5 linked regions of the Homo sapiens genome follow. The protein of the gene in region 2 purifies or fractionates together with the protein of the main gene of each other region. This does not show direct contact. Each region holds a gene or a part of one and is shown on either strand. Other genes may lie near its edges.

The links.
Region 1: the proteins of SLC24A2 (region 2) and CKAP5 purify together in Homo sapiens (affinity purification with mass spectrometry, with the first as the bait; one large-scale study listed by BioGRID). This does not show direct contact.
Region 3: the proteins of SLC24A2 (region 2) and AFG3L2 purify together in Homo sapiens (affinity purification with mass spectrometry, with the first as the bait; one large-scale study listed by BioGRID). This does not show direct contact.
Region 4: the proteins of SLC24A2 (region 2) and SMC2 purify together in Homo sapiens (affinity purification with mass spectrometry; one large-scale study listed by BioGRID and IntAct). This does not show direct contact.
Region 5: the proteins of SLC24A2 (region 2) and PEX11B purify together in Homo sapiens (affinity purification with mass spectrometry; one large-scale study listed by BioGRID and IntAct). This does not show direct contact.

Annotation. Positions count from the first base shown.
Region 1 is NC_000011.10:46,835,759-46,840,043, reverse strand, and holds part of CKAP5 (cytoskeleton-associated protein 5), read left to right. Parts: intron 1-4,285. UniProt on the Homo sapiens protein: Binds to the plus end of microtubules and regulates microtubule dynamics and microtubule organization. Acts as a processive microtubule polymerase. Promotes cytoplasmic microtubule nucleation and elongation. Plays a major role in organizing spindle poles.
Region 2 is NC_000009.12:19,506,689-19,510,515, forward strand, and holds the end of SLC24A2 (sodium/potassium/calcium exchanger 2), read right to left. Parts: 3' UTR 767-3,827; downstream 1-766. UniProt on the Homo sapiens protein: Calcium, potassium:sodium antiporter that transports 1 Ca(2+) and 1 K(+) in exchange for 4 Na(+). Required for learming and memory by regulating neuronal Ca(2+), which is essential for the development of synaptic plasticity.
Region 3 is NC_000018.10:12,352,843-12,357,127, reverse strand, and holds part of AFG3L2 (mitochondrial inner membrane m-AAA protease component AFG3L2), read left to right. Parts: intron 1-296; coding exon 297-434; intron 435-3,969; coding exon 3,970-4,123; intron 4,124-4,285. UniProt on the Homo sapiens protein: Catalytic component of the m-AAA protease, a protease that plays a key role in proteostasis of inner mitochondrial membrane proteins, and which is essential for axonal and neuron development.
Region 4 is NC_000009.12:104,097,080-104,101,364, reverse strand, and holds part of SMC2 (structural maintenance of chromosomes protein 2), read right to left. Parts: intron 2,920-4,285; coding exon 2,797-2,919; intron 1,722-2,796; coding exon 1,683-1,721; intron 1,273-1,682; coding exon 1,162-1,272; intron 977-1,161; coding exon 932-976; intron 1-931. UniProt on the Homo sapiens protein: Central component of the condensin complex, a complex required for conversion of interphase chromatin into mitotic-like condense chromosomes.
Region 5 is NC_000001.11:145,912,970-145,916,188, forward strand, and holds part of PEX11B (peroxisomal membrane protein 11B), read right to left. Parts: intron 1-3,219. UniProt on the Homo sapiens protein: Involved in peroxisomal proliferation. May regulate peroxisome division by recruiting the dynamin-related GTPase DNM1L to the peroxisomal membrane. Promotes membrane protrusion and elongation on the peroxisomal surface.

The sequences.
Region 1 (4,285 bases), on a different chromosome or scaffold from region 2:
ATCTGTCCTCCCACCTCAGCCTCCCAAGTAGGTGGGCCTACAGGCACATGCTAATTTTTGTATTTTTTGTAGAGATGGGGTTTTGCCATGTTACTCAGGCTGGTCTCAAACTCCTGGGCTTAAGCAATCTGCCCTCCTTACCCTCCCAAATTGCTGGGGTTACAAGCATGAGCCAACATGTCCCGCTACATTTTATCTTTTTTTATCCTCACAATGTTTTACAGATGAGGAAACTGAGTCTTTAAAAGGCTGTGCAACATGCTCAAAATCATAGAACTAAGTGATAGAATCTGAATTCAAACCCAAGTCAGTCTGTCTCCAGGGCCTTTGCTCTTAACCTATGATTGTACTACGTGAAGTAGGGATCTGTAGGAGAATTCAGGAGCAATTTCTGGGTAGAATTCCCCCAGCCCCTTTTAAAAAAGTACTTCTATCGGAGATGTGATGAAATATGAATGACAGGCATGATAGTTTTTAGAGGAAAGATGGCATTTACCATATGGAAGATGGACAACTGTGACAGTGGTGGCGGTGGGTAGCTAAAGGGACGCATAAAAATTGAGTTCTTAATCTAATTAGGATTCTTGGTAGTCAATGTTGGAGAGTTTTAAGGTTTTTAAATGATTTTCCTATTCTTGCCTCTGGAGTTTAGAATACATTACTTAGCTCATTTCTATCAGGGCAGTTACTCTACCTACTTGATGTGTATAACTCCAACACATTACGCTTATTCTTTTCGGTCTTTGCATTCTGTTCTGGAACTTCTCACTTCACTCTACCCCTACCCCCAGCCTGTATTACTGGCACTCTCAGGCTTCAACTTAAATGTCATCTCCTTAAAGAGACACTTTTCTGAGCTCTGAATTAGAGGAGCCCTCTTGGTCACTTTTACTTCACTTTTCCTTATTTACTTCATAGCATATATTGTTATGTAATTGTTTATTGTTTGTCTATATATTGTTAGATTTTCTCATAAAAATGAAAGCAGAACATAGATTTTTTTTTTCCTTTGAGGTTACCTCAGTGACTCAACAATGCCTGCAACAAACTAGGTGGTCAAAAATATTTGTTGAACAAAATTGGCCAAAACTGGCATCATCTTCTCTGAACAAAAAAGTGATAAAAACAGTATCTGACTATTCAGTTGGCTGTGTTTCTGTGTCTTTATTTATTTTTTTTTATTTTTATATTCTAAAAATGTTGCGACAATGGTGGCTCAGCAATTTTTTTTTTTTTTTTTTTTTTTTTTTGAGATGGGGTCCCACTCTGTCTCCTAGGCTGGAGTGTGTTGGCCTGATCTCTGCTTACTGCAACCTTCACCTCCCGGGCTCAAGGGATCCTCTCACCTCAGCCTCTAGTGGCTGGGACTACAGGCGAGTGCCACCACACCCGGCTAATTTTTTTTTTTTTTTTTTTTTTTTTTTTTGAAGAGGCAAGGTATTACTATGTTGCCCAGGATGGTCTTGAACTCTTGGACTCAAGTGATCTGCCTGCCTCGGCCTCCCAAAGTGCTAAAGTGCTAGGATTACAGGCGTGAGCCACCGTGTCTGGCTGTCATTTTTTTCTTTTTGTGGAGACACAGTCTCAGTATGTTGCCTAAGCTGGTCTTGAACTCCTGGCCTCAAACAATCCTCTCGCTCCAGCATCCAAAGTGCTGGGATTACTGGTGTGAGCCACTGCACCAGGCTTGTTCCTGTGTTTTTGGGTGTAAGCAGTATCTTAACAGTCTCAATTAGTCTTAAAATTATTTTAGACTAGTTCAGAAAGTCTTTAAGAAAGCTAGAAAAATTATACATCTGAATTTTTTAAAAAAATTTTAATCTGTTTTGAGAGGTACTAGTCAAATACATTGTAAGATGTCCTTCTATTGGAATTTGTCTGATGTTTTTCTCATTAGACTGGAGTTACAGGTTTTGGGCAGGAAGACCACAGAGGTAAAGTGCCATTTTCATCACATCATATCAAGGGTACATGCTATCAACATGATTTATGACTTAATATTGACCTTGACTGTTCATATTGACCTGAAATAGTGTTTGTGAGGTTTCTACAGTGAATTTACTTTTTTTTCCCCTCCTTTTCTATACTGTATTCTTTGAAGGGAAGTCACTGTTTGCAGCCCACACTTAAGGAATGGGGAGTTCCTTGATCTTAGGGTGGAGTACCTACTTAATTTATTTGAAATTCTTGTCTCTCCTTTCCCATTTATTAGTTTAGTCAAGTATTTACTGATAATAGTGTGGACTCAAGTATATTTATTTTATATTTTAGGTTACACTCCAATATTACATTATTTTGTTGTTCAGGTTGTTCCAGCTTTGTCCTTTGGGAGCTTCCTGTATTCCTTTAACATACATGTGTGTGTGTGTGCGCGTATTTGTATTGATCTTTGAGTACTTCCTTACTATCTGGAAATGTTCCAGGCTCATCTTGTGTATTTCTTGTCCCAGTGCTAGAATCAGCCATTTCCCCAAGGTGCCCTGGTTCCCTTATTGGAGAATGCTATTAGAAACAAGACCTGGGTACTGAGTGTTCTCTTTGCTACTGGGGTGTCATTTCTTTTAGGTCCTTTCAACTGTTAGAGCAAAGAAATATATGAATGTATGCTAACCCCATGTATATAGACATATCTATAAATATTTCTCTATGTAGCCATCTGTGTCTATATTAAGTTAAACGAGTTCCATAGATCACTTTCAGTAGTATGGGCGGGGGGGAAAAACATGAGTTCCTACTGGTGTCTCCAATTCTGATCCATTATCACATAGATCATTCTAGCCTCCTCCCCTTGCTGATCTTTGAATTTCCATTCACAATAGTGAAAAACCTAATTTCCACCATCCATTTATTTAATTGTCCAGTTCCATTATATATGGATATACATACATGGATAGCAGTATCAGAATTGCTAACCCATACTCCATGAAAAAAACTTTATCAACTAGAGTACATACTTCTGTGCAGTTCCTTTTGCCCTTAATCTTTCAGACTCCACTCATTACCAAAGCTACTTAGGTCAGAACCTTTTTCCCACCCCCTTTGGTGAAGTTGTTTCACACATCTGTAATATAGATTCCCTTGTCATAGTCTTCATTCTTTTCTGCAATCTCCCAGTCTCCTAAATGACTTTTTAAAATTTGCATACATTAAAGTTCACTCTTTATGTCATAAAAGTCTCGAACTCCTGCCTTGGCCTCCCAAAAGTGCTGGGATTAACAGTACAACCCACTGTGCCCAGCTGACATAAATTTTTAATTCAGTTGGATAAATACCTAGAAGCAGGTTGCTGGATCATATGGTAAGACTAGTTATAGTTTTGTAAGAAACTGCCAAACTCTATTCCAGAGTGGCTGTACCATTTTGCATTCCTATTAGCAATGAATGAGAGTTCCTCTTGCTCCACGTTCTTAACAGCACTTAGTTCTATCTGGTTTTTGGATTTTAGCCCTTCTGGTAGGTATGTAGTGTCCCCACTTTATTATTATTATTATTTTAAAGAGATGGGGTCTCACTGTGTTGACCAGGCTGGTCTCAAACTCCTGGCCTCAAGCAATCCTCCCATCTCAGCCTCCTGAAATGCTAGGATTATAGGTTTGAGCCACTGTGCCTGACCTAGTGTTCTCACTTTTTAAAATTATTCGTTTTCACGACATTACCTTTTTTGAAAATAAATGTTAGTTTTTTAAGAGGAAACTTTTTAAAAATTAACTTTATTTTGGAATAATTATAGATTGTTCCAACAGAAAAGTTGCAAAGATGATGTGTAGGATTCCTGCATACCTCTCACCCAGTGTGCCCTGTTATTAACATCGTTTAAACAAACTCCAGATTCTGTTTGTGTTTCAACAGTTTTTCTATTCATGTGCCCATTCTGTTTCAGGATCCAATTCAGGGTAACATATTGCACTTCGTGGTCATCTCTATTAGCCTTCTCTGGTCTTTGGCAATTTCTCAGTCCTTCCTTGTTTTCATGACCATGACCATTTTGAGGAGTACTAGTCAGTTGTTTTGTAGACTGCCCTTCTCTTTGTCTTTGTCTGATATTTTTCTCATGATTAGTCAAGAATTACGTGTTTTTGGAAAGAATACCATAGAATACCATATCATATCAGGGGTTTTGTGATATCCATGTGACATCATTAGTGATATTAACCATGATCACTTGATTAAGTTAGTGTTTGCTAGGTTAAGTATTAAAGTTAGTATTTTTCCCTTTCTATAGCTATTCTTATGAAAATGAGTAGCCAGGTCTAGCCCACCCCCAAAGTGGGTGAAGGGATTAGAT
Region 2 (3,827 bases):
ATGTTGGCCAGGCTGGTCTCCAACTCCTGAACTCAAGTAATTCCCCCGCCTCAGCCTCCCAAAGTGCTGGGATTACAGGCATGAGCCACCGTGCCCGGCCTGAATTCTTATTTTCATATAAAATATTAGATTTATAACAAGACTTTTAAGTTGAACTTCAAGGCTTAGGCAACACTAGTCCTTTGAATTTACACTTTCAATATATTTAATTGATTAAAATTCAATTGCTTTGGAGTAGTCCCTTGAGTGTACAATGTTCCCACAGATATTTAAAAGCTCAAATGATATTAGTAAGCACTCAATAAGTGGTAGTTACAGATGGTCCCTCAGTCCTGATGATTCATTTATCTTAATGATTTTTGACTTTACAATGGTTCAGAAGCAACGCACTTTCAGTAGAACGTCAATAAATTATATGAGATCTTCCACACTTTAGTATAAAATAGGTTTTGTGTTAGATGATTTTGCTCAACTGTAGGCTAGTGTAGGTGTTCTGAGCAACTTTAATGTAGACTAGGCTAAACTGTAATGTTCAGCAGATTAGGTGTGTTAAATGCATTTTTGACTTAATATTTTAACTTATAGGCTTATTAGGATGTACCTCATCATAAATTGAGGAGCATCTATATAATTAACAGTAACTCTTGCTTTCCCTGTTGTCCCCTTGAATCTCTGCAATTAAACTTCCATGACCATGTATGTATTTCTTGTGACCCTGAGGGTCCTGATTAGCCACAAGTAAGAATTACTCCAAACAAAACAATACTTCTTTGAGTCAATAATTTTATTACTATTATTTTTCACACTGAGGAGACTTAGTTACATAAAGTGATATTCTATGAATTGATTATCAGTAGTAGAAGCACAAAGGTATGGACAGTGAAACAAGAAGAAACACCCTTTATCAGAATGAAGTCCATGTGACAGAAGTACATACTTCAGACAGCCTATGTACAAATAAGTAGAGCTTCCTGTCTATGTACAGACATATTCACAGAGAATAAACTGACATAGTATCACCATGTATCTCATCATCCAGTGAAAATTACGCATAATAAACACAACACATACAAAATGACAGAAGTAATTTGGAAGTGCATCCACTGGATTTTTGTAGGGATGAGGATAGGGGTTACAATGCTCCTTTAAAACGGAGGCGAACAAAGGAAGCATGAGACCACGTCTATCCTAAAAAAGATCCTTTACAAAAATGGCATTCTGATATTTTTAACATAACCTGTCTAAAAGACAGTTTATATGTTATAGAGCAAATGTCTATGTTGGCGTCAACGTTGACAACATTTTCTTTGTTTTAACCGTATCTGAAGAACAAAAGTATAATTTCTCTTGCTTTTAGTGCTAGCAGCAACTTCACTGAATCAGGAAGGTAGCTTTTGCTATTCTTAGCTTTGATGGCTTTTTAAGTATGTGGATTGCTTGATGGTGGAAGCTGTTGCTTCCGGAGTTTTTTGACTTGAGCAGAAGAAATATCAAGGCTAGATGCAGGGTATATATGTGTACTTTGTGTTCAGGGTTCAATAGCGCAATTCAGTAACTGAGGCTCCCTCTTCCGAATAGAGTCTCAGCCCTTTAGAGAAACTCTTCAGACCACAAAACAGCCTCTAACAGAGGAATATCACTGGCCCTTGGTTCAGATACCCTTTCTTTAGGGCAATTTGGCCACTTAAGCATAAAATTGATGGGGTTGTCCAGTTTAGTACCCATGTTTACTCTATATGGACAATTTAGGTACCCAGTTCTGGTGGATTTCTAGACTATTAAGTGCTTTTTAGTAATTACTTTTACTCAAATTACATAAAAGGGCTGGGTATGGTGGCTCATTCCTTTAATCCCAGCACTTTGGGAGGCCAAAGCAGGAGGATCTCTTGAGCCCAGGAGTTTGAGACCAGCCTGGGTAACATAGTGAGACTCCATCTCTTAACAACAACAACAAAATTAGCCAGGCATGGTGGCATGTGCCTGAGGTCCCAGCTACTCAAGAGGCTGAAGTGGGAGGATCGCTTGAGTCCAGGTGTTTGAGGCTACACTGAGCTATGATTGCACCACTGCACTCTAGCCTGGGTGACAGAGCAAGACCCTGTCTGTTAAAAAAAAAATTATATAAAAATTTGTGATGAAGTTGAAACATTAAAGTTTTTAGTTGTGGGGACATCTTTATATATGTGTGTGTAAACAGTGTACCATACTAGGTTAGAAATTGTGTATTTTAGCGGAGAGGAGGAAAATAACCACCAAAGCATTATGAAATCTGCTGCTTTACATGTCCTCCCAAGGAAGGTTAGTAATTTAGGCATAAGGAATTATTGATAAATTGTATACCTCTATTTCCCATTTTTATAAGGGAACTTCTTAGACCCATCCTATATTTATATAAAAGCTCAAACACATCCTACATTTCCCAGGTATATGTTTGCTAATTATCTATTTCATTTTCCATATGGGTGAACTTTGCTTTATATAACAAAATGGATTCCTGAAAAAAATCTACAATTTTAAAATAATTTCCATGTAGTATTAGAACTTGCTAAAGAAACTGTAATAAGCTATTTTGAAAACGAAGACTGCTTTTGTGAAATGAATAATTTCTTTGATTTTCAAACAGTTTTATTAAAGCACACATCTAAAATGTATAAGTAGATTAGGATTGCCTAGAACAATAATTGTAGTTAATAAAAAATAGAACAGATAAACTCCAATTTACAATAAACAATACAAAACAGGAATGACTCATGGACTGCTTATTGATTGACTATATTCAGAAGCCCTGAATATATGTATTATTGGTATTTTATGGCTTTAATTAAGACAGTTGTCTCTTATGAAGTACTATAAAGTGCAATATTAAAAAATTAAAAAACCCAAAAGGCATCCATTGTCCTTCAGTTTTATTCTGATAAGAATTGGGGATTTGTTTAATTAAATGGCAAGAAGTTATCTACCCTTAATTTATGCATGTAATTTCATCCTTAAAATAATTTTATTCAGGATTTCAGACTTTTTTTACTTTTCTGTTTTTTATGACATGATTTTAAAAATTAGTATTTTCTTTTGGTTAGCTGAGTATTTTGGAGAACTGTTAGTCTCCAAGGCCTTAGTTACTTATGGATCCATTATGAAGGAATATGCAACCCAATATGTAAGAATGCAGAAACAAATTCCCATCCTTTTGGTGAACCCTGGCCCATGAGATCAATCAGTAGCTTTACAAATCCTATCCAACCTACCACACAAAAGGATATAAACACACTGCAGTACTGGTTAATAAGTGGAGATCCAATCATTTATCCCAGTTTCATATTTAAAATAAAAATATTGATTCCTCTTGATAAATTAGTGGGTAAGTACAGGCCCAGAGTTTTGGAGTAATCTAAAGTGGTGTCTCCCCAATTTTGAGTTCTTTGTGAGTCTGAGATTATGACCTAATGACCTTAAAAGCAGTTTGTGACCTTGACTTCACCAGAGCTTCATGGTCATGCTGCACCCAGTATAGTTCAACACTGTTCAGACAGTGATTATCATTAGTCATAAGGTTCCATCATTTAAGAACAATATAAAGAACTTAAAAAGGCTTAGTAGAGAGGAACTATAAAAATTATTAAGAGGGTTAAAGACTCAAATAAAAATCTAAAGATAATTTTAATTGAAAATAGGTAAAGAGTCACATAGCGGTAACTTCCAACTATGGGGCAAAGAGTGAAGAGTGCCCAGATGCAGTTACTTTTTGCCAAAAAAAAAAAAAAAAAAAAAAAAAGTTAAGTCATTAAGTGGATGGGTTTGGGTTAACTTGGAGGGAGGCTTTTCTTGAT
Region 3 (4,285 bases), on a different chromosome or scaffold from region 2:
GCCCAAGTCACCCTTTACATACTGTTAGACTAAAGGTCTAAAAATCAGCCCTAGGAAAAAAAGGAAATATTTTAAATTTCACATTCTTACCAAATTTTTTGAAACAAAATTATTTTTGATAATCTTTTTATTCTTACTAATATAAAAATGTTCTACCATAGCTCAGATGTTTAAGTAATATTTAATATATATCAATAAGATTTAGAGACAGAGTTATATCTTGTAATTATTTGTGGATACACAATTTACTTTTCTGGAATTCTCATTAAATGTAATTTCTTTTTTCATATCTGAAGGGTGCCATTCTCACTGGTCCTCCAGGCACTGGGAAGACGCTGCTAGCTAAGGCCACAGCCGGAGAAGCCAATGTCCCCTTCATCACCGTTAGTGGATCTGAGTTTTTGGAGATGTTCGTTGGTGTGGGCCCTGCTAGAGTGAGTCTCATTCTGTTCGGATGGTACAGCTTCCTTGCACCCACCACTTCACCACAGATGGAGGCACTTGCTAGAGATGGCCCTTCCCCCTAGAGTGCTAGAGTGACCTCTCACCAGTCCCTGGCCTGAGCTCTCCTCCAGGCCTAAGACTTCAGCAAGGCCTGTGACTTCCACCCCACCTTCCCTCGCACCAGCTAGGACTGCAGTCTGCTACCTATAGTAGACCAATTTAAAGAATTGACGGCTGGGCGCGGTGGCTCATGCCTGTAATTCCAGCACTTTGGAAGGCTGAAGTGGGTGGAACGCTTGAAGTCAGGAGTTCGAGACCAGCCTGGCCAACATGGCGAAACCCTGTCTGTACTAAAAATAGAAAAATTAGCCAGGCGTGGTCGCGCATGCCTATAATCCCAGCTATTTCGGAGGCTGAGGCAGGAGAATCTCTTGAACCCAGGCGGCAGAAGTTGCAGTGAACCAAGATGACACCACTGCATTCCAGCCTGGGCAACAGAGTGAGACGCTGTCTCAAAAAAAAAAAAAAAATTTTGCTTTATTTGTGGATTTTTTTTTTTTTTGGTGACAACATTTATTGAGATATAATTGACATACCAAACAATTGATCCCTGTAAAGTATACAGTTCAGTAGCTTTTAGTAATTCACAGATTTGTGCAACCATCACCACAATCAGTTTTACAACATTTCCATTACATCAAGAAGAAATCGTGGCCGGGCGTGGTGGCTCACACTTGATATCCCAGCACTTTGGGAGGCCAAGGCAGGCGGATCAGGAGGTCTGGAGATCGAGACCATCCTGGCTAACATGGTGAAACACCATCTCTACTAAAAAAACAAAACCAAAATTAGCCATGCGTGGTGGCGGGCGCCTGTAGTCCCAGCTACTTGGGAGGCTGAGGCAGGAGAATGGCGTGAACCTGGGAGGCAGAGCTTGCAGTGAGCTGAGATCACGCCACTGCACTCCAGCTTGGGTGACAGAGTGAGACTCGTCTCAAAAAAAAAAAAAATATGTAAATCGGGAGTCCTAAGCAAACTACCCAAAGGAATTTCCTAGTACAGACATTCCATGTAAATGAAATTATACAATATGTGGTTTTTTTATGCCTGATTTCTTTCACTTAACATGTTTTTGAATGGTAACTCCATGTTTAACATTTTAAGGAACCACCAGACTGTTTTCCAAACTACTTGCCCATTTTCCATCCCTACCAGCAATGTGTAAGGGGTTCTGATGTTTCCCCGCCCTTACCAACACTTTGATGATAGCCACCTTAGTGGGTGTGATGTAGTATCTCGTGGTTTTGATTTGCATTTCCATGATGAGGAGTGATGTTGAACATCTTGTATATGCTTATTGGCCATTTGTATATTTGTATATCTTCCTTGGAGAGTTGTCTATTCAGATCCTTTGCTCATTTTTTAATTGGGTTTTTTTGGTTGTTGAATTGTAAGAGTTCTTTTTTTTTTTTTTTAATTTTTTTTGAGATGGAGTCTTGCTCTGTCGCCCAGGCTGGAGTGCAGCGGCATAACCTCTGCCTCCCGGGTTCAAGTGATTCTGCCTCAGCCTCCCTAGTAGCTGGGATTGCAGGCACCCACCACCATGCCCAGCTAATTTTTGTATTTTTAGTAGAGATGGGGTTTCACTATGTTGGCCAGGCTGGTATTGAACTCCTCACTTCAGGTGATGCACCCCCTGCCTTGCCCTCCTAAAGTGCTGGGATTACAGGCGTGAGCCACCTTGTCCGGCCTCACCTTCACATCTATTTCACACTTTGCTGTTGTTGTGCAGATAAGTCATAGAAAAATAGGGAATGAGGGGGAGTTGGGTGTTAATGATGATGGGCCATGAGATATAAAGTGGATGGGGGGAAATTGAAGACAGGAGAGGAGCTGTGGGGGGTGGTGGGGAAGGGTGGGCCTGGTGGGTTGCAGAGCTGAGAAGTGGTAAAGAGTTGGCGTGAGATACCTGAGTGTGTCTGTGGGTCCAGATGATAGGAGGGGGTGCTCAGAGAGTAGATGACTTGAAGATGGTGGTTTAAAAGGCAACCTTGGCAGTGCTGGTCTTGTCAGAGTGAAGTAAAAGGTGAATGAAGGGGTGGTCAGGGAACTGAGAGACCGAGAGCCACATGGATGGAAATCACTGAGGACATCATGCCTAGTGGCAGTCAGGCTGGGGGAGACCCATGGCACAGTGGGGTGGAGTGCCTGCCACAAGGCCTGAGCCTCAGCAAGCAGGGGCTTTTCCAGCAGTTATTTTGGCAGCAGCAGTGGGGTGTGAGGTGGACCCCAGCTCCAGTTAGCCTGTAGGGGAAGATGCAGACTCCTGCTTAAGGCTTGCTGGAATGGCTGAGTTCCTGTTCATGCCGGGATGGGATGGATGTACTATGAAGGTGTGGGTCTGTAGGTCACAGATCTGGAATTCAGAGGGGAGGCTGGAGAAGGATACCAGTTATTTTAGGGGATGTGTTCAGAGCAGTGTAGGAATGAACATCCAGAAATCCAGGCAGGAAGACCTGGACTTCTGTCCAGTGAAGTGGGGGGGGGGGGGTGGGAGTGGGCAGGTGGAGAGTTGTCTCTGATTCTCCTTGAAGGGGCAGGTGACTGATGGTGAGGTGCTGAGTGGCTCTTCCTCCTCTTCCTGACTGCAGGTTTGTCTGAGGGTATGTGCTATCAGGATGGTCTGTGGTGGGGTGGGTGGCAGACGAAGGCTGTCACCCCCTCTTTGGGGATGAGCTGATGGGCTTGGATGGTCTTTGGCTTCACTGTATATGTGTGATTGCATAGACTCCTTAGTAGCCTCAGCTTGTTAATAACTGTGTTAGGCATGAAATGTGAACTCTAGAGAAGTCTGAACTTTTCAACTGAATGTAAAGTTTACAGCTCTACTGTGTTGTCTTTGTTTAGGTATATATGTAATGTTAATTTGTTGATGTTACAAAAATAGCAGATATTATCAGTGTTTATTACATATACAGTAATTTATGGGATCTGAGAAAGATTTGCTCACCTTAAGTCGGTTACCCAGGTTACTCCTCATTTGCTGCTGCTTTGCTACTTGTAACTCTTTTAAAAAATGTACCTTACAGTGTGTATCACAAAAAGATTGTCTGCACATGGGACGGGAAGCTGAAGATTTATTTCATTTTTTTTTTTTTTTTTTTTTTTTGAGACAGAATTTCGCTCTTGTTGCCCAGGCAGGAGTGCAATGGCTCAGTCTCAGCTCACTGCAACCTCTGCCTCCCAGGTTCAAGCGATTCTCCTGCCTCAGCCTCCTGAGTAGCTGGGATCACAGGCACGCGCCACCATGCCTGCCTAATTTTGTATTTTTAGTAGAGATGGGGTTTCTCCATGTTGGTCAGGCTGGTCTCGAACTCCTGACCTCAGGTGATCCACCAGCCTCGGCCTCCCACAGTGCTGGGATTACAGGCATGAGCCACTGTGCCCGGCCGATTTATTTCATTTCTTATTCAGAGAATACATAATATTCTCTGGTCAGGTGACTCTCTTTCTGTTTTTGCCAAGGTCCGAGACTTATTTGCCCTTGCTCGGAAGAATGCCCCTTGCATCCTCTTCATCGATGAAATCGATGCGGTGGGAAGGAAGAGAGGAAGAGGCAACTTTGGAGGGCAGAGTGAGCAGGAGAACACACTCAACCAGCTGCTGGTGGAGATGGATGGTGAGTGGTCAAGGCTTTTGTATCTTTAACTGCACTTTTGTTTTTTTTTTTGAGATGGAGTCTGACTCTGTCGTCCAGGCTGAAGTGAGTGGTGTGATTTCGGCTCACTGCATCCTCTGACCCCTGGGTTCAAGCGATCCTCCTGCCTCAGTCTCCTGAGTT
Region 4 (4,285 bases), about 85 Mb from region 2:
CTTCAAGATTACAATTTTTCCAGTAAAATTTATACTACTATATGGATTCACAAGACAGCTCTGAGTAGTACCAAATTTCAATGAGCATTTAATAAATTCCTAAAAGGAGATAGCTTTAAAAACGTCGTTTGGCTGGGCACAGTGGCTCACTCCTGTAATCCCAGCACTTTGCGAGGCCGAGGCAGGTGGATCACTTGAGCCCAGGAGTTCAAGACCAGCCTGAGAAACAATGAGAAACCCTGTCTCTACAAAAAAATAAACTAGCAGGGTGTGGTGGCATGCACCTGTAGTCCCAGCTACTCAGAAGGCTAAGGTGGGAGGATCCCTTGAGACCGGGAGGTGGAGGCTGCAGTGAGCTGTGATGACACCACTGCACTCCAGCCTGGGCGACAGTGAGACTAGTCTCAAGAAAAAGAAAACGTAGCTCATAAATGCATTTTTTGATGACATATTGTGCCATGTCTTTTGACAGTCAGGAGCTGCAAAGATTACAGAGACAATCCAATCCTCTGTTTCAATACCTTTTGCTTACAAAATACCTTGATAGCAATAATTATAGTGATAGCCCCTGTTATCCTGGAAATTGTTCTCAATGAGGGTGTCTAAGAGTGCCTTATCTTTAAGAAATGTTGTTCCAGTCAATGCTAACTAACTAGGAAAATCCAGACTTGCTTAGCTTAAATAAAGTATTAAAATTCGGCATACCATTTTCTGAAACTATAAAAATTACTCTCCAATATCCTATGACTTAGCAGATAAGTGCATATCCTCTGTAAGCAGAACGCTGAGTTATGGAGTGCCAACTCTAATTCCTTATCTCATCGCAGGAAAAAAACCCCCAAGAAATAGTATCACTATGTGTATGATTTTGGATACATTGCTGACTTTGAAAGACATTCTAATAGATTATCCTCACATATACAGAATATACCTCTTTTAATTTTTGAATGGTTGGAGTAATCTCTTCTTCAAGTATCTGGAAAATAAAGAAAAATCAGTATTTTCGCATGTAAAGTATCATTAAAATTTATTTGAAAGAGAAGTAGCAGGGATGACTATGGAAAACTGAACCAAGGAAAAAAATTTTTCCCTCTTTACAGCAAAAACTCTACATGCAAAATTACATTCTTCTCCGAAAATATTTTATATGAATTAAATTACCGTCTTAATTTCTTTCAGCTTAGCCTCCTTTTTTTCTATAGTTTTCTGTGCAGCTATTTTTTTGTATTCATACATCCTGGTTCCAGCTGCTTCTTCTATCATGGATAAAATCTGGAATGACAATTTTATTAATGTTTAGTATCCAAGACAATGTGTCCAACTGGAATTTACATTAAATATATCATTTTTGCCTTGACCTCACTAAACATCTTACCAAAAGTTGGCCCAAATGAACCATATAGGTTAAATATAGTAATTTCACACAAACCTTTTCCTGTAGGCTTTTTCTGTAGGAATGAATTCTGACATGAAACACCAGCTAAGCAAGACTCCTTTATACAATCAAAATCAATTTTAATATTTGGGCATAGTGCCAAATATTACACAAATATACAACTGTCTTTACTAATCATTCCCAAATAATGTCTCCAAAAATTTTAATAGAATATTTAAAAATTGTCTGAAAGATTAAAGTAATATCTATACCAACTATTTTTAATGTCCATAAATAGTACTCTTACCTCTGGAGGTTTCATATTCAATACTTTTGTAATTCGGCCCTGAAAATAAAATAGCAAACTTACTAAGATAACAAATTACAGAAAATGTTTATCTGTACTGCCATTCATGTTTATCTAGACTGAAGCTGTTGTATCTCAATATACCAATCTTTGGGGGGGTCTTTCCTCTATAATTCTTCTATGATTCTAGAATTTTGGAACTTTGCTATTCACTTTCTCACCAGTGATACAAATTATGGAAGTTATGAAATGATACAAATGAAATAATTCATTAAATGATACAAAGTTAACAAGGATCATGTTTCTGAGACAGTTAACATTAAGTAGAAATATTCAAATTTAAAACAGGTAAATATAAAAAGAAATTTCAGCATAATTAAAAAACTTTTAACATTTCTTTGAATGATAACCCTCCAGGATAATTTCACAAAACAGATGACATACTTCTAGGCCTCAAACAAAATACAATATTTTACATCAATGCCAGAAAACCATTAAATTTATTCATTACCAAAAACAAATAAAGCAAAACACCTGCACACCCAGGTCTCAGAGAATTGTATTACTAGAATGTAGATTCATTTAAAGTAAAGTTTCAACTATGAAGGTGTGTAGTGGAAATATTTTTATTTTGGTCCCACTGAGATGCTCCCATCGACTTTACTATAATTCTCTCAAACGGCAGCTGGATGGGTCAAATGAAGTAATGTAAATGTAAGATAAAATCAGCCTTTACTCCTCATTTGTGTGAGTCTCTAAGAAAATTACTCAAGCTTTTATACTTGAAATATTAAGATGCATTAATCCAATAATTTAAAAGGATATATTATGGCTTTTTTTTTTTTACAGTTAACATGTATTGTTCTTTTAGTGACAAAACAAAAAGTCAACAAAAATTACTTCTAAACATTCTAGAGGAGTCAAAGGTCTATAATCCAGTAGAATATATCAGTGCAAGTAACTAAACCATATTTCTAAACAGATGGCCGGACACAGCACAATAGTAAATAAAAAGTATAAAATCCAAAACATAAAGTACTTCTATTTTAATTGCTTAAAAGTAAAAAATGTCGAAACTATTACGAAAGTGATATAAAGACCTCAAACGAAATACCTGCATGATGAGAAAGTGAGGGTTGTTAACATTAAGGCCAACAGAACAGAAGAGATCCTGTACTCTGGTGTTGTTGGCATTGACTCCATTGATTAAATATTTATTTCTACCACCAATAACCACCTATAAAAGAAAGCAATTTTTTAAATATTAATGTACATGCACACCTTGTGCTAGGATAAACTAAGTATATTAGCTTACGTTTATTTGTTCTGTCTGACTAGCAGTAAACAAAACCAATTCTGCATAAATAGTGGAACAAGTATGACATGGTCAAAAACGCTAACTTGAGTCAGGACAGCTAGTATCTAATGCAAGTACTTTTGGTAACTAGTTATGTAATTACACACAAGCCTCTTACCCTGGCCTGCACCAGACTAGGTCTCCGAGGTAACTTCTAGCTTTATGTTTCCAAGTATATGTAAAACACACTTTCCTAGTTACTTTCTTTCTGTAATTTTTCTAGAGGCTTTCTCTACTTTTCAACAGGAATAGATGTCAGACAAAGTAGCTTAGTATCAATTCTTGACAAGATTCAAAAAGCTATTAATAAAGACATGATTTATGACCATTTAAAAGAAAGGGTAATCATGGAGCTTCAGTATGGTTTCATTAAGTCATCCCAGACACCATACTCTACTATCACACTTAAATTGTCATTTATTGGGTATGATTGTCTCATCTACCAGATTGAAGTCCTTAAAGACAAGCTCTGTTTCTCATTCTTCTAACTGTACATCCCAGTACATTCAAGAACACCCAATATACATCAACTATTTAATAAATATTGAATAAATGTTAGTTCATTTCTTTTCCTGACAGGACTACTAGGTTGGTAGTTCATATATTAATGTATTTGAAGACCCTTCTCTGACAAAAATTTTATAATTTTGGTGAAGATACAAGTTTATGGCCTGAATGAGGACAGGAACAATTAGGTAGATTATTAGTAAGAGACTTAGTGACAGTTCCTAAAGGATAAATATTTGATGGATGCCTAATGACATGGAACAGGATTCTGTCCTAACGTGGCCTACGCTTCTTTTTTTTTTTTTTTTTTCAACCAGAGGCTTCCATTAAAATAGAGGAGAAAATCTGTAAGTGATAAATGATAAGATGGACAGTAAATAGGAGTTGACAACATTTTTAAAAACAAAATCTTGGGCCAGGCGCCGTGGCTCACACCTGTAATCCTAGCACTTTGGGAGGCCAAGGCGGGCAGATCATGAGGTCAGGAGATTGAGACCACCCTGGCCAACATAGCGAAATCCCGTCTCTACTAAAAATACAAAAAACAAAAAAAAATTAGCCGGGTGTGGTGGTGGGCACCTGTAGTCCCAGCTACTCAGGAGGCTGAGGCAGAAGAATCTCTTGAACCCGGGAGATGGAGACCAGCCTGGGTAACAGAGCGAGACTCCGTCTCAGGAAAAAAAAAAAAAAAAAAAAAAACCTTGACAAGCTGAAAACACTGCCTGACTATATTAATAAC
Region 5 (3,219 bases), on a different chromosome or scaffold from region 2:
CCCAGCTACTTGGGAGGCTGAGGCATGAGAATTGCTTGAACCCAGGAAGCAGAGGTTGCAGTGAGCCGAGATCTCACCACTGCACTCCGGCCTGGGCAACAAAGCAAGACTCTGTCTCAAAAAAAAAAAAAAAAGGCTAACTCATAGGGGCACAGAATAGAATGGGGGTTGCCAGGGGTTGGGGAGTGAGGGAAATGGGAAGATACTGGTCAAAGCGTATAAGTTTCAGTTATGCAAGATGAGTAAGTTCTGGAGATCTAATGTACTACATTGTGACTATAGTTAACAATACTGTATTGTATATTTGAAATCTGCCAGGAAGGTAGATCTTAAGTGTTCTTACCATAAAAGAAAAAAGGTAATTATGTGAGGTGATGGATATGTTAATTAGCTTGACTGTGGTGATCATGTCACAACGTACATGTACAAACATCGAGCTATAACTCCTTAAATATATGTAATTTCTATTTGTCAATTATGTCCCAATAAAAATGAAGAAACAAAGTCCTCCCAACATTCTGTAACTAATACATGTTTATGTGCACCTTAAGATCCTGGTTTAAACTCCATGAGCATCATGAAATCTTCCAAGGTCAATCTCAAATTTCATTTTCCACTTGGCAACACACACACACACACACACACACACACACACACACTCTCCATCTCTCTCTCAACTTGACCTATAACAAGGCAAACTTGTTTTGAAAGAACAAATTTCAGATGTCTCAGAGACTCAAACATATTAAAGGTGATCTAAATCCAATCCCTATTCCTTTAGAGGCCCAGAGGTTTAAGTAATTGCCAAATGTGTTAAATTATAAATTTCTTCAGTAAAAAATCCATGTTTTTTATTTGTAATCCAATCTGACAATGGTGGTCTGTACTCAATAACTTGTACTACCTTCAAAGTATATCCTGAACCCAACCAACCACATCTCTCTATCACACCGCACTGCCATACTCTAAGCCACTAACATCTCTTGTCTGGACTTCTGCTTTAATGTTTTAACTGGTCTCACTGTGGCCATTGTTGCCCCCACCCCCAACAATCTATTTTCATATAATAGCTAGCATAAACATAAATCACATCATTACTTCCCTTCTTAAAACTCTCCATGGTTGGCCAGGCGTGGTGGCTCACGCCTATAATCCCAGCACTTCGGGAGGTGGAGGCAAGTGGATCATGAGGTCAGGAGTTGGAGACTAGCCTGACCAACGTGGTGAAACCCTGTCTCTACTAAAAATACAAAAATTAGCTGGGTGTGGTGGCGCGTGCCTGTAATCCCAGCTACTCAGGAGGCTGAGGCAGCAGAATCACTTGAACCCAAGAGATGGACGTTGCAGTGAGCTGAGATTGCACCATTGCGCTCCAGCCTGGGCGACAGAGCAAGACTCCATCTCAAAAAAAAAAAAAACCAAAAACAAATAAACAAACCACAGCTCTCCATGGTTTTCTTCCTGTCACATTCATAATAAAATATAAATACCTTAGAGAGGCTTACAGACTCAACATCTGGTCCCTACCCCTCTAACTTTACCTTGTATCATTCTTTCCTGCAATCATTATGCTCCAACCATGTTGGTTTCCTTCTACATTTTAATCCCATCAAGCTTGTTCTTGCCTTAGGACCTTTGCACTACCTATTCCCTCTACCTGGAATATTCTCCCTCCACCTGGAATATTCTCCCTCCAAAACCCTCACATAGCTAGCTCTTTCTTGCTCTTCAGGTATGAGCTTAAGTATCACCTCTTCGGAGACGCCTTCCCTTATCCCTAAATCTAAAGCACTGAGTCAGTTACTCTCTACTCCATAACACTGTTTTAATTTCCTGCATAACATTTACCAGTATCTGATATTTTAATTTATTGTTTATTTATGTTTATCTCATCCCATTACAAGGTAAGTTCCAGAGGAGCAGAGGCCTTGTTTGTCTTTTCTTTTTTTTTGAGACGGTATTTCACTGTTGTTGCCCAGGCTAGAGTACAATGGCACGATCTCGGCTCACCACAAACTCTGCCTCCCGGGTTCAAGCGATTCTCCTGCCTCAACCTCCCGAGTAGCTGGGATTACAGGCATGCGCCACCACACCCGGCTAATTTTGTATTTTTAGTAGAGACGGGGTTTCTCCATGCCGGTCAGGCTGGTCTCAAAACTCCTGACCTCAGGTGATCCGCCCGCCTTGGCCTCCCAAAGTGCTGGGATTACAGGCATGAGCCACCGCACCTGGCCGGCCTTGTTTATCTTTAACCACTGTATCCCTGTATGTACACTGGTGCCTACCATATAGTAAGAGCTCAGTAAGTATCTGTTGGATGAAATGAATAAATATAACATATAGACTCCTTTAGGGAGTTGCTTTTCCATACTGCTCCAGCCATGCCTCTGCTCCCACCCCTCATACATCATAAGCCATGTTAAAGTTGTAAATCACTGAGAAAGATGAAGGGAAAAGCAAGGTTAATATAATGAAAAAGTACAATCATAGGAAAACGAAAAACAATACAGATAATATGTTAGAGAATTTTACTCCCACATCATATTTCTCTCTACCTTTATTGTCAGCTACCTCCTTTGTCCAAGCCAACGTCATCTCTTGCTCGTATTAGGGCATCTCCTCCTCTCTTGACCCACTGCAATCCATTTTCTTTTCTTTTCTTTTCTTTTTTTTTTTTTTTTGAGATGGAGTCTTGCTCTTGTCACCTAGGCTGGAGTGCAATAGCACGATCTCGGCTCACTGCAACCTTTGCCTCCCGGGTTCAAGCGAGTCTCCTGCCTCAGCCTCCCGAGTAGCTGGGATTACAGGTGCCCGCCACCACACCTGGCTAATTTTTGTAATTTTAGTAGAGACGGGGTTTTGCCACGTTGGCCAGGCTGGTCTTGAAGTCCTGACCTCGTGATCCCCCCAACCTCGGCCTCCCAAAGTGCTGGGATTACAGGCGTGAGCCACTGCGCCCGGCCTGCAATCCATTTTCAACATCTCAAAAAGAGATGTCCTTTAAACACAATTTGAATCATGTCATTTCCCTGCTCAGAATCCTTCAATAATGTCCCATTGTAGGATAAAATAAAACAAACATTAACATTGCCTAAAAGGCCCTGTATGAAAGATCTGGTGCCTGTCTATCTCTCAAATTTGAACTGATGGACTCAATACTGTCAATCACACTGGCTTTCTTTCTATTTCTCTAATTCCCTTAAGTCTTTCTTAGTTCAA